Linked DNA regions of Homo sapiens: region 2 is linked to region 1. The links come from fine-mapping of genetic effects on gene expression. Tissue or cell type: whole blood. Region 1 holds a variant in brackets; the other region holds the start of a gene. All regions are shown on one strand. Distances are from middle to middle.

The links. PIP is the estimated chance that this variant, and not a neighbour inherited with it, causes the effect.
Region 2: USO1 starts here. The variant in region 1 is fine-mapped to the expression of USO1 in whole blood (TOPMed, PIP above 0.99).

What each region holds. Positions count from the first base shown.
Region 1 is chr4:75,795,941-75,802,337 of GRCh38, forward strand. USO1 (USO1 vesicle transport factor) reads left to right here. Exons shown (of 24, transcript NM_003715.4): 14 at 3,682-3,792; 15 at 4,411-4,529; 16 at 4,678-4,859; 17 at 5,139-5,260. Among named protein-coding and RNA genes, the nearest start is that of USO1, 75 kb to the left of the region's middle. The variant T/C (reference allele first, on the strand shown) is at 3,674.
Region 2 is chr4:75,721,130-75,727,385 of GRCh38, forward strand. USO1 (USO1 vesicle transport factor) reads left to right here and starts at 3,448. Exons shown (of 24, transcript NM_003715.4): 1 at 3,448-3,756. The coding sequence starts at 3,691. It also overlaps a transcript of G3BP2 not described here. RefSeq lists enhancers at 2,638-3,558, 3,559-4,478, 3,575-3,654 and silencers at 3,235-3,404, 3,739-3,916.

The sequences.
Region 1 (6,397 bases):
TTTGTTTTGTGTGAGTATTTGGCAGAAAAGGAGTGTACCTTAATATCTATGTTTGGGCATGGGTTTCAGTTGAATAATGTGGGTAGTAATAAATGAGGTCCTGTTATGAATTGTATCTTTGTGTATGAGCATGATTTAACATGTGTCATTAACTTACACACACACATACATATTTTGCAGCTTTAGCCTGCAGAATTTTATATTAGGGAAAGTATTTTATAAGTATACATGTCAGTCATTTGAAAGGGAATTTTTTTTGAGGTATTAATTTATATACAATAAAATGCACAGACCTTCTGTGTTTCATGTGATGATTTTTGGTGTTTGAGTGTATCTCTGTAACCACCACCCAAAACTAGATGTAGAACGTTTTCATAATCCCAGAAAGTTCCATCATGCTCTTTTTTTTTTTTGAGACGGAGTCTCACTCCGTTGCCCAGACTGGAGTGCAATGGCACGATCTTGGCTCACCGCAACCTCTGCCTTCTGGGTTCAAGCGATTCTCCTGCCTCAGCCTCCTGAGTAGCTGGGATTACAGGTGCGCACCACCACACCCAGCGAATTTTTGTATTTTTAGTAGAGACAGGGTTTCATCATGTTGGCCAGGCTGGTCTCGAACTCCTGATGATCGCAGGTGATCCACCCACCTGGCCTCCCAAAGTGCTGGGATTACAGGTGTGAGACACCGCGCCCAGCCCGCAGCTTCAAATATTTTGTTTGTAGTTCTCTTTTATCGTGTAAAATCTGTGGTTTATAATTACCCCCGAGAATGCTCTCAAATTACAGTTTTAGCCTCCATTTGTTTTCTCAAATCTCCTCAATGGTTCACACACTCTAGGGGCTCTGAAAAGAGGTGTGTACTTTTCCTTTTATTTATATCCTCTGCCCATTTTATATTAACATACTTAACCCTTGTTTTTAATATGAGTTACAGATTTTTTTTTTTTTTTCTGGTATGTCATTTGTCTTTTGACCTTGGTGTTTTGTTATGGATTTTTTTTTTTCTCAGACTTATCTTTTATGGCTTCTGCATTTTAAGTCATACTTAGAAAAGGCCTTTCCATGTTCAGATTTTAAGGAATTTACTAGGCCAGGCATGGTAGCTCACACCTATATGTTAACACTTTGGAAGCTGAGGTGGGGGCATCGCTTGAGCTTTGGAGTTCAAGGCTGCAGTGAGCTATGATTGCTGCACTCCAGCCTGATAGACAGAGCGAGACCTGGTCTCCAATCCCCCCAAAAAAGACTTTATAAGGAATTATACTTCAATGTTTATCTTATACTTTCTGGTTTCTTTTTTTTTCATTTAATTCTTTGTTCTGTTTTTCTCAGCGAACTGTATGAGATACAGATCCACTGATCTTTTTCTAGATAGCTCTCCAGTTGTCCCAAAATCTTTTAAGTCTATTTGTAACTCACTGATAGTTGTATGCTACTTTTTCATATATTAAATTCTCATTTGTATATGGGCCCATTTTTCTGGATTTTTGTATTCTGTCTCTTGATTCCTGCTTGTTCGTGATCCATTATTCTCTCTTTTTTCTTTTTTTTTACAGTGTCCCTAGTTAATCTCACTTTTTTCATATGATCTTCAGAATCATGTTGTTTTGTTCCAGAAGCAAAAAAAAAAAAAAAAGCCTTTTAGTAATTTTTATTTGAATCACATTAATTTTATTCATTTATTTATTTTTAATTTATTTTACAATTATTATTTTTTTTGAAATGGAGTCTCACTCTGTCACCCAGACTGGAGCGCAGTGTTGTGATCTCGGCTCACTGCAACCTCTACCTCCCAGATTCAAGTGATTCGCCTGCCTCAGCCTCCTGAGTAGCTGGGACTACAGGCGCGCGCCACCTCGCCTGGCTAATTTTTGTATTTTTAGTAGAGACAGTGTTTCACCATGTTCGTCAGGCTGGTCTCGAACTCTGGACCTCAGGTGATCCAACGCACCTCAGCCTCCCAAAGTGCTGGGATTACAGGCACATTAATTTTATAAATTAACTTAGAATTAACACCTTTGTGATGTTGAGTCTCCTATCTAAGAACATGGTGGCTTTCTATTGGTTTATGTCCACTTTTGTGCTCTTTAGGAGTGTTTTAAAATTTTCCTTGTTTAGATTTTATACCATTTTGATTAGGTTCACTCCTGAGTACTTTATCTTTTTTTGTCTCTGTAATAAATGGAGTGTTTCATTCTGTCTTTTAACTGGTTATATTTGACTTTGCTCTTCTTATCCTTCAATTAGACCCCAAAAGCCATGCTTTTAGAAGATTCTGATTTAAATCTTACTCTGTTTTTTTTTACTCATACATCAGCCAGTGATTTGATAGGATGTTCTTATATATACATTGTGGGTATATTTGGTACCTGCAAATGGTTATGCTAAGTAATAATGAACTTATATATAACCAGGTAGATGAACAAAACATTTGCATTTGTAACTCGAGTAGTTGTAAGTTTTCTGTGGCACATAGTCAGTTGGCAGTGACTGGTTTTTAACTTTCCAATTTACATGGATGACTTGAAGATATATTGTGGGCATGGTAATGACGTAGAGGCAAGGAAACAGTAAAAATAATGCATCATGTAAAAACTAAATTTGTATCAGTGCTTACCTGGCAAATCATTTGAAGAGGTCCTGTTTGAACTTAATTCAATATTAAATATACCTAAAAATAGATTATAGAAGAGTCAAGATATTGGCATCAAGGTTTGTGAAATTAGAATAGTCTGGGTGGTAGAAATTTTTCGGAACACAGTGATGATTACTTTAAATTCATTCCTTGTCTAGATCTTTGAATTATATTTCGGACATTTTATGAGACTTTCCCCAAAGTGATGCATTACTATTCTGATTTTCATTATTTTATTTCAAACAAGTTTTGTTTTGTTTTTTTAAAAAAAGATACAGGTTATAGGAATATAAATATGGGCACTGTCAATATTGTGAACTAAGAGAATATTCTACCTAGGAGATGTAAATGTGTTGTATTAAAATTTTGAAAACTAATTTTGCTGGATATGCTAATTTTCATTATTAACTATACTTGGCAGCTGTTAATGGTTTGGGGGCACTTGGCTAATTTAAATCTTCCTCTTGATTATGTTTGTGATTTCTCATCTGGTGTGTGATGACTGAATTTGTAGTATGGTTTATTTATTGTTAGAGAATATATTCTCTCATGGAATTTGACTAAATGATTCAGGGGATTATTTTTTGCATTTTTCTTGATTTTTTTGTTTTTTGGTTTTTTTTGAAGGAAGTAGAATTTTCCTTTTATCAGGAACTTGTTTTTAAACTTGTGACTGAAATATCATAAATTTGCTTGGCAAATTTATTGTAAAGGGTCTTGGGATTAATAGATTATTTTAAAGCCTCCACACTGATTTTTTTCCTTAGCAGACAAGGTTTTTAAACTAATCATATTTTAAATAACCCAGTATATGCCTCTGAACATGAATCAGTTCTAATTTCTGCACTCTGTTCATTTTAGGAAGTGCAGCCTGTGGTGCATACAATAATTTATTCTCTTGTTTAGTTTTTTAAAACTGGATTTCTGGCTCATCTCTTGTAAGATGTTAAAGTTCTTTTCATGCAAATGGAAGGGATCTTAGGGCAACTTTAAGTTTGAAAAATATAAAATGAATGGAAAGATTTCTACCAATTTATC[T/C]GTTGCAGGGAAGCAAAATACAAACAAGAGTTGGATTATTAATGTTGCTTTGTACCTGGCTAAGCAATTGTCCCATTGCAGTAACGCATTTTCTTCACAATTCAGCCAATGTTCCATTTGTATCCTTTATGTTTTAGTAACGTACATGTAAGTATTTATATCTTTTTTAGTTTTTCTCCTCAATTAGAAGTAGTTCTATGCCCAAAATATTTGAATTCTCCACTATCTTATCTGTGTTGCAACTTTTTAAACTGTTAAAGTTGTTATGATGCTTGTTTAAGTTGTGTGTGTGTGGTTTGTTTTATGCCGGGTTGGAATATATATATGAAATTTCTTTTTTTTTTTTTTGAAATGAAGTCTTGCTCTGTCGCCCAGGCTGGAGTGTAGTGGCGCGATCTCGGCTCACTGCAACTTCCGCCTCCCAGGTTCAAGCAATTCTCCTGCCTCACTCAGCCTCCTGAGTAGCTAGGATTACAGGTGTGCGCAACCACAACCCGGCTAATTTTGTATTTTTAGTAGAGACATGTTGGCCAGGCTGGTCTCAAACTCCTGACCTCAGGTGATCCACCCACCTTGGCCTCCCAAAGTGCTGAGATTACAGGCATGAGCCACCACACCTAGCCTATATATGGAATTTCTTATGGGAACTCTTATGTGAAGTATTAATGTATGTCAAATTCAAATTGCAAAATGTACTAGATATTTTCAATCCTTAGCCTCCTTAACAAAGATTTCAGCTTACAGGACAAATTGCAGAAAATCTTGGAGAAGAAGAGCAGTTGGTCCAAGGCTTATGTGCCCTTTTGTTGGGCATTTCGATTTATTTCAATGATAACTCACTTGAGAGCTACATGAAGTAAGTAAGGGGAAGATGGTTTTCTAATGGCATCAAGAGATAATGATGCTTTTTTTTTTTTTTTGCCAAAGCATTATGTAGACCAAGCTTTTATGTTTTGTTTTGATTTTATTTTTTTTAAAGCATCTCAATATGCTTATCTCCGTAGAGAGAAGCTAAAACAACTGATTGAGAAGAGGATTGGCAAAGAGAATTTCATAGAGAAACTAGGATTTATTAGCAAACATGAGTTGTATTCCAGAGCATCTCAGAAACCCCAGCCAAACTTTCCCAGTCCAGAATACATGATATTTGATCATGAGTTTACGAAGCTGGTAAAAGAACTTGAAGGTAAGACTGAAGATTTATATTGATATTTGATGGAAAGTAATTATATTTATATTGTACATGTATATTCTGGATGCATACAGGTTATATGGTAACTCTAAAGGTATATTTTCTTCCTAGCTCTTGATCTGTAGCCCATTGAAGGACATTTGGCTTTCAGTAGGATTGAAAAGATTATTTCTTACCTATCATGGAGTTAGGTTATATGTTTTTACTAAGTCTTAGTAGTAAAATAGTATTTAAAACATTTAAAACAAATTTTAAATAAGCTTCCTTTTATAGGTGTTATAACTAAGGCTATTTATAAGTCCAGTGAAGAAGATAAAAAAGAAGAAGAGGTGAAAAAAACATTAGAACAGCATGACAATATTGTGACTCACTACAAAAATATGATTCGAGAGCAGGTAAGTACTAATGAACTGTATATACCCTCTGATTACCAATAGGCACTTTCTGCTTTAAGGGAGCCTTTTTTTCTGACATTTCAAATGAAAGAGGATATAGAAAGCAAAACCCATCATTTTTCAAAGCATCTGAGTATTCAACAAACAGAGTGCTTAATATGTGCTAAGCACCATGCAGCTGATTTATTAGATAATGATGAGTGGATAAAGATGAAACTACAATTGCGGAATCATCAGTTGACATTTTCTTTCCAGGATACCAGTGAACTTTCATTACTTGCATTGTGTTGAGTACCCTAAACCTTCATTATATTCCTTCAAAATGTTTTCTTGACTTTTACTCTCATTTAATTTCTTATGATATTTACCTTGATTGGAATTCTAGAAAGTGCTGAAAAATGAGGTTATTAATGTTGTTAAAATTCCAGTGTCATAAAAAAATACAATAGTGGCAGACCCTGTGGGACAGATTCATCCCCTTCCCTCTACTGCTCTCCACACCTGTCTACTAATTGTGCACAGTTTATGGCAGGTGTGGCAAGTAAAAGCATAGATAGAACCCTTTAAATTGACAACTGTTTATATCTTATTTTCTTCCTCACAATCTACATTACTGAGATTAGTTTGTTTTTTGTTTAGACAGAGTCTTGCTCTTGTTTCCCAGGCTGGAGTGCAGTGGCGCAGTCTCGGCTCACTGCAACCTCCGCCTCCCAGGTTCAAGCAATTCTCTTGCCTCAGCCTCGCAAGTAGCTGGGATTATAGGCGTGTGCCACCACGCTGCCTAATTTTTATATTTTTAGTAGAGATGAGGTTTCACCATGTTGGCTGGTGTTGATCTCCTGACCTCGGGTGATCCCTTCCCTTCCCTGCCTCAGCCTTCCGAAATGCTGGGATTATAGGCATAAGCCAGCGCGCCCAGCCTACTGAGATTAAAATTTTAAGAAAGAATGAAAATATTGTGGTATATTTAGCATTCATTCTAAGCTTTTCAGTTTAAAAGTAAATCAATCAATAAATTATAATCTTAGAATGGTAAAATTTGAATCATCAAACTACCTATGGTTATTAGGATTTTTCATCTATATCTGGGTACAAAGATGGAGCCATTTCCAGTTGCTAAAATGTAATAATATCTTT
Region 2 (6,256 bases), 75 kb before region 1:
GGGGTTTCTCCATGTTGGTCAGGCTGGTCTGGAACTCCCAACTTCAGGTGATCCGTCCACCTCAGCCTCCCAAAGTGCTGGGATTACAGGCGTGAGCCACCTCGCCCAGCCTCAACTAGTCTTTTTTTTTTTTTTTTGGGACAGGGTCTCACTCCATCCTCCCAGCTGGAATGCAGTGGCACAATCATGGCTCAATGCAGCCTTGATCTCCCAGGCTCCAGCGATCCTCCCACACCCTCCCAAGTAAGTGGGACTACTGGCTGGGAATACAGGCGCATGCCACCATGCTCAGCTAATATTTTATTTTTTGTAGAGACAGGGTTTTGCCACATTGCCCAGGCTGGTGTTGAACTCCTGAGCTTAAATGATCCTCCCACCTTGGCCTCCCAAAGTGCTGGGATTATAGCCATGAGCTACGTCTTTAAAAACCTATATACGATACTGAAGGGGCTTATAACCTACCAAAATAATAAATAAATAAAAACCTATATATGATAGATTTCAAATACAAATGATCATTTATATTTATCCTCCCAAGCAGGCATAGACAACATTCCACCTTACTACCACCCCAACTAAAAAACAATCTTATGCAATTATATTTCGTTGTTTTTGCGAGTTTTCCACTAGAAAGTTAAGTGGGCCACTGAAAAAAGCAATTTGAAAAAATGAATTTCAAACCAATGAATTTTGTTCGTTGATCTATTGTCAGGTTTGGTTTAGAAAAAGATCACTCTTAATTTTGATTATATGTATTTTAATGATTCATAGGACTCTTATCCTGAATGCTTAGATTTATGAAAGCCAGAAGTATTAACAGTGCAAGTCAGGCCGTCACAATTTGTTCAAGTTTTCTCTTCCTTTATTAACTCAGGTAGTTCCTGAGCATCTACCATATTAAAGGAATTATACTAGATGATTAAAGGATGCAAACAGGAATACAACACAGTCCCTGACTTTTCTCCCTCTACAAAATCAGTAGAAGTGGATTAATATGTAACTCTTCCTCTGAAATAAGGAGTCTATTTCATGGTTGTTCTGTAGTGACAATGCCTCGGGGATCCCACCTTCATCACCTTTGCACCCAACTGTCCATCACTCCTGTGCAGGGGATGCTGCTGGGGAAGAAAACAGGTCAAATGCAGGGAAAATTCATAGTAAGCTGTTACTACTACACTCACGAAAGTATAGTAACCTACTTTACTCACTGAAGTACAGTAACCTACTGTACCCACCAAAGTTTAAAACAAAACAGGACATTTGACAAGGCTGGTGCCTTTAAACAACTTTGCTAAAATGTCAAGGCACTCTTTTTAATTATTAAATAAGAGGAGTAATAGACATTTGTGGCCCACTCCGTCTATGAGCCTCATTCCTGATGATGGGGTAGAGTGAGTTTCAGGGACAAGGTGAAGTGAGGTTCAGGGAGGGGTGAGGCTTAGGGGCTTAAGTGAAGTTCTTTGCATGCATTTCTTAGTAACAAAAATGCTGAGTAATTTACTGGTTACTTTTTTTAGGCTGCAACAAAATGCTCCCATGGAAAATGTCTACGGTAAAATGTCAAGTGTATAGCTTTAAAGCAGAGGACAATGCTTAGCGCACAGTATTTTTGGCAGTATGACCCCACCATTCTCCAAGTTGCCCAGGCTTAAAATGTTGGCACTAGGAAACACATAGCTTATGATGTCTTCCCTACAATTTCACTTTACAGATTAAAAAAAGGGAACCTCCTCTTAGTATAATATTCATATATTCTTTCAATAATTTATTCATTTATCCATCAATATCACCTTTTATGAGACAGTGGTAAGCAACAGAGATATAAAATGAATAACATAGTCCTGCCCTTAACAGTTTGGTTTAGCAAGCATTTATTCAATGTACACCATATACAGTATCAATAACTGCAAAGTGCTAACATATAGATGTGTACCTACATTTTAGGGAAAGCTTTCAAGAATGATGTCAGAGTTGAGCCTTAAGGAATTAGCAGGAGTTTGCTTGATGAAGAGAAAGGAAGGGAAGGGCATATCCAGGTCTGAGAAAAATGCCCAGAGTATGTGGGGGAGGCAGGAGCTGAAAAAGTAGGCAGGAGCTAAATCATAACAGGCCTGTATGACAAACTAAGGAGTTTGCACTTTATTCTGGACAGAATGGGGAACAACTGGAGGATTTTAAGAGGAATGACATGAACAGATGTTTTGTTGTTGTTAGTCTCACCCAAGGATGGACTGGAGATTGGACTGGAAGGAAGCCAGGGCTGAATGCAGACAAACTAATTAGGAGGCTGTTGCTGTCATCTCAATGAGAAATGATGAGAAGAACATAATCTATGTCACAGGCACAGAGGATGGAGAGCAGAACACCTATTTGAGAAATATTCTATAAATAGAAATGATAGGACATGACTATTGATTGGACATGTGTGGGTGGAAAGCCAGAGTCTAAGATTCTTCCCAGCTTCCTCTGTCTAGCTTAGGCAATTATTTGGACAGTGGTACTACTGAGCACGGCACGCACACAGTAGAAGCAGCATATTGACTTTTTTTCTTTAAGGGAGGCAGGGAAAGATGACGAGTTCAATTTTAAATGCTGAATCTGAGACCTGTGGGGAATCCAAGGGGAGAGGTGCATGAGTCAGTTAGCTAACTAGACCTGTGCTTTTTAGCCTCAAGAAATTTACAAGACTATTCCAGAAGCATGTGTACTGACAACCTCACTGCCAAAGGAACAGGCATACCAATTAGAGAAAATGACAATTTTTCATGTTAAAAAAAAAAAAACTGAAAACACAGGGGTTGAGAGTTAATAACGAAACATTATGTTACTCGCCAAACTGACACAGCAGAACAATGTATTTCTCTAGTAAGCTAAATGTAGGGTTTGATGGGTTTCCTCCTGACGACACTTGAAAATAGAGGTGTACCTGGTGTTTAGATCTAGGAATTCCTTTCAGCAGGTTTGAAGAGCAAGAGCTGAGAAATGCGCCCTCCAGTGGCAGTGGAATGAGGGGTGTCTAGTAACCCTTTTTACCACCAAACAAAGCCCTGTAAAGAAATGCAATTTACCGGGATCAGAAAGCCACAATGCTGGTACCAGTAAACCGTCAAACCAAGCGAACCCTCTCAGGCGCCAGGAAGCCTTACCTGTCACGTTGGCCAAAGGAAAATTTCACTTTCGACTCAACAAAATAAGACCTCAGATTTGATAGCTTGCAGTAAGTCCCGCTTGGCGACGATTAAACACCCTGCAAGTCGAAACGCGTAGTCTAATCAAATCCTCTCCAGCCTGCAGGGCCGGGCTTCCACCACGTGGGTGGCTGCGGCCAGCAGGATCAATCCGCGAAGGGTGGGGGTAGGAGGCGTGCCCCTGCGGTGGGAGGCGGGGTCTGCGCAGTGGGTGGGGCTTCGGCGGAACCTAGCTAAGAGGTTCCTCTCGCCTCCGCTCCCCTTTTGCCTTCAACCTTCGAGCCGCCACGTAATGCCACGTCCCCGCGCATGCGCATCTTGGCCGCTGCTGGCGGCTGTTTCCGGGCTTAGAGGGCTGGAGTGGCCGCCGAGTTGGAGGCGGTGGTGGCAGCAGTAGGAGTGTGTAGAGTGCGGGATTGGGGCCCAGGCCCTGCGGAGGGCGGGGGAAGTTGTCTTCTTTTTTTTCCGGAGGGGCCGGTAAACCTGGTGGCTGAACGGCAAGATGAATTTCCTCCGCGGGGTAATGGGGGGTCAGAGTGCCGGACCCCAGCACACAGAAGCCGAGACGGTGAGAGGAGCAGCGGGTCTGGGACTTGGGAAGGGGTCCGGGCAGGGACGGGGACGGAGCACTCGGAGACCCGAAGGTCACCTCCAGCGTCCCACCATGGAGGGGGCATCCACATGCCGCCTCCCCCTTTGCCCTCCTTCCGCTCCTGAAATCCCAGAGTTATTCAATCACGCCCCCAGCTCAGTCCCCATTGCTGCCGTTCGGCCGGACTGACGGCGGCCGCGCCCCGCAGCTCTGTAGGCCCTGAAGCTCGGGCTAGGAGAGTGGTCCGCAGGTGGTACCGCACGGGAAGGGACGGATGCGCGGCCGAGCTGGCCCGAACTGCCTCCCACGCCCCTCGGGGCCGTGGGCCCCTCCCTCTTTCTCTTTCGCTCGTCTGCACTGGCCGAGAGGAGCCTGAAGTCCTGCTCCCTCCCTCGCAGTCTGAAACTGGGGCGTTGGGGAAAACTGCGAGAAGGTTTAAAACCCAGCTGTTGGTGAGAGCATTTGGCTAAGAATAAAACGATATTCTTTGAAGGACAAATCCACCTGCTCCTGTCCCATCAACTGGAAGAGCGGTCGTTCTGCCTGGTGTTATTTGTTCAGATCCGGCTTTTCGGGCTCACCCAAATATATATCATTTGGCAAATGCTACCTTGAACGTAGTAGGGATCTTAAGCGCTCAAACTGCTTTGGGGACACGTCCACCGCTTTCTGCCTGAACTCCTAATGACATGATTTGCGGCGTTATTTAAAAAAAAAAAAAAATGGTTAGCCGCTGAAAACATTATTTAATAGTTGCTTAGATTCTAGGTTTAGAATACACTTATTTTGAAGTTTGGTTAGTGTTTAATGGAATCGAGGGTGTATGCCTTTTTGAAATAAACTTTTTATTTGAGAAGAATTTTAGATCTACATAAAAGAGACTAAGTATAACACTTTAATGGCTAACTTTGTTAATGGGATCCTGAGGGATAATATAGTAGCTTTCATTTGTCAGGCTCTTACCTTGTGCTAGGTTCTGTGCTGAGCTCTTTATATTCCACATTATGCTTTAATCGTTAACTACCCTGCAAGATAGGTGAGAGTATTCTCACCTTAAAAGTCAAAAAATGAGACTGAGAGGGGTGAAGTAGGCCGGACGCGGTGGCTCACGCCTCTAATCCCAGCACTTTGGGAGGCTGAGGCCGGCGGATCACCTGAGGTCGGGAGTTCGAGACCAGCCTGACCAACATGGAGAAACCCCGTCTCTACTAAAAATACAGAATTAGCCGGCCGTGGTGGCACATGCCTGTAATCCCAGCCACTCGGAAGGCTGAGGCAGGAGAATCGCTTGAACTCGGGAGGCGGAGGTTACGGTGAGCAGAGATCGTGCCATTGCACTCTAGCCTGGGCAACAAGAGCGAAACTCTGTCTCAAAAAAAAAAAAAAAAAAAAGGGGTGAAGTAACTTGACCAATGTCACACTGCTAATAATAGAGCCAGGATTCAACCAAGAGGTACCTTACTTCAAAGCCTTCACTTTATTGCTCATGCCTGTATTTCAATACTTTTTGGGAACTTTATATAGTATTACTAAAATTAACTGCAGCTAGTCGCAGTGACACAGGCCTATAATCCCAGCTAAGGGGATGCTAAGCCAGGAGGATCGCTTGAGCCCAGGAGTTTGAGACTAGCCTGGGCAGCATGAAGAGACTCCATCTCAAAAAAAAAAAAAATAACTGCGCAGGTCTGGTTAGAATTGTTTAAAGCATAAGATGAAAGCCGGTAAATCTGTTTCTTTCATTTGAAAATCACTTTTCTGTCTCTCACTGTAACACACGCACACATTTGGCTTCACTCATCCATTCCCACTTGGCAACAAGGCAGCCTGAGCTACCCTACTAGAAGATCATGTTCTGTCTAGATTACCAGAGTCATACCATAATCACAGCCCACCACTTTTTTGTCTGATATTTGTGTTTGTGGCACCAGGTTATGAAATATGGTTTATTACAGCTTGCTTTGTGGAGTTAGACTTTGATTTGAATCCTGGCTTTCCACCCCTGATTGGATTGGATATGTAAGAGATAGCTAATACCCTCTAAGTAAAATGAGGAAAATGCCTGCTTTTTAGGATGTAATGAAGATTAAGTGAAATAAGTAGAAAGAGCCTGGCACTTAGTAGATGTATAATGAGAGGTAATTTTTACTATGTGTGGGTTGAACGAAGAATACCCTTTCCTGTTTTTGTTATTATTGGCCTTGTCACAGTGACTTCTGTAGAAAAGATGGAATAGAATTCACAGTGTATAGGATTTTAAAGCTAGAAAGTCCCAGATAGAGCCTCTTCATTTTATAGTCACAGAGCACTAAAGTAGCTTGCACAAGGTTGAAGAGTTGGAGCTAGAACATTTTGATCTTGCCACTGTGGATGGAACAACATAGTTTTTATATCACAATTTCAAAGTGAAACTTGAGTATCACTTGCGTATGTTGTATATATAAACTGAAAGGGTCCTTTCTTGTTCTTGCCTAACTTT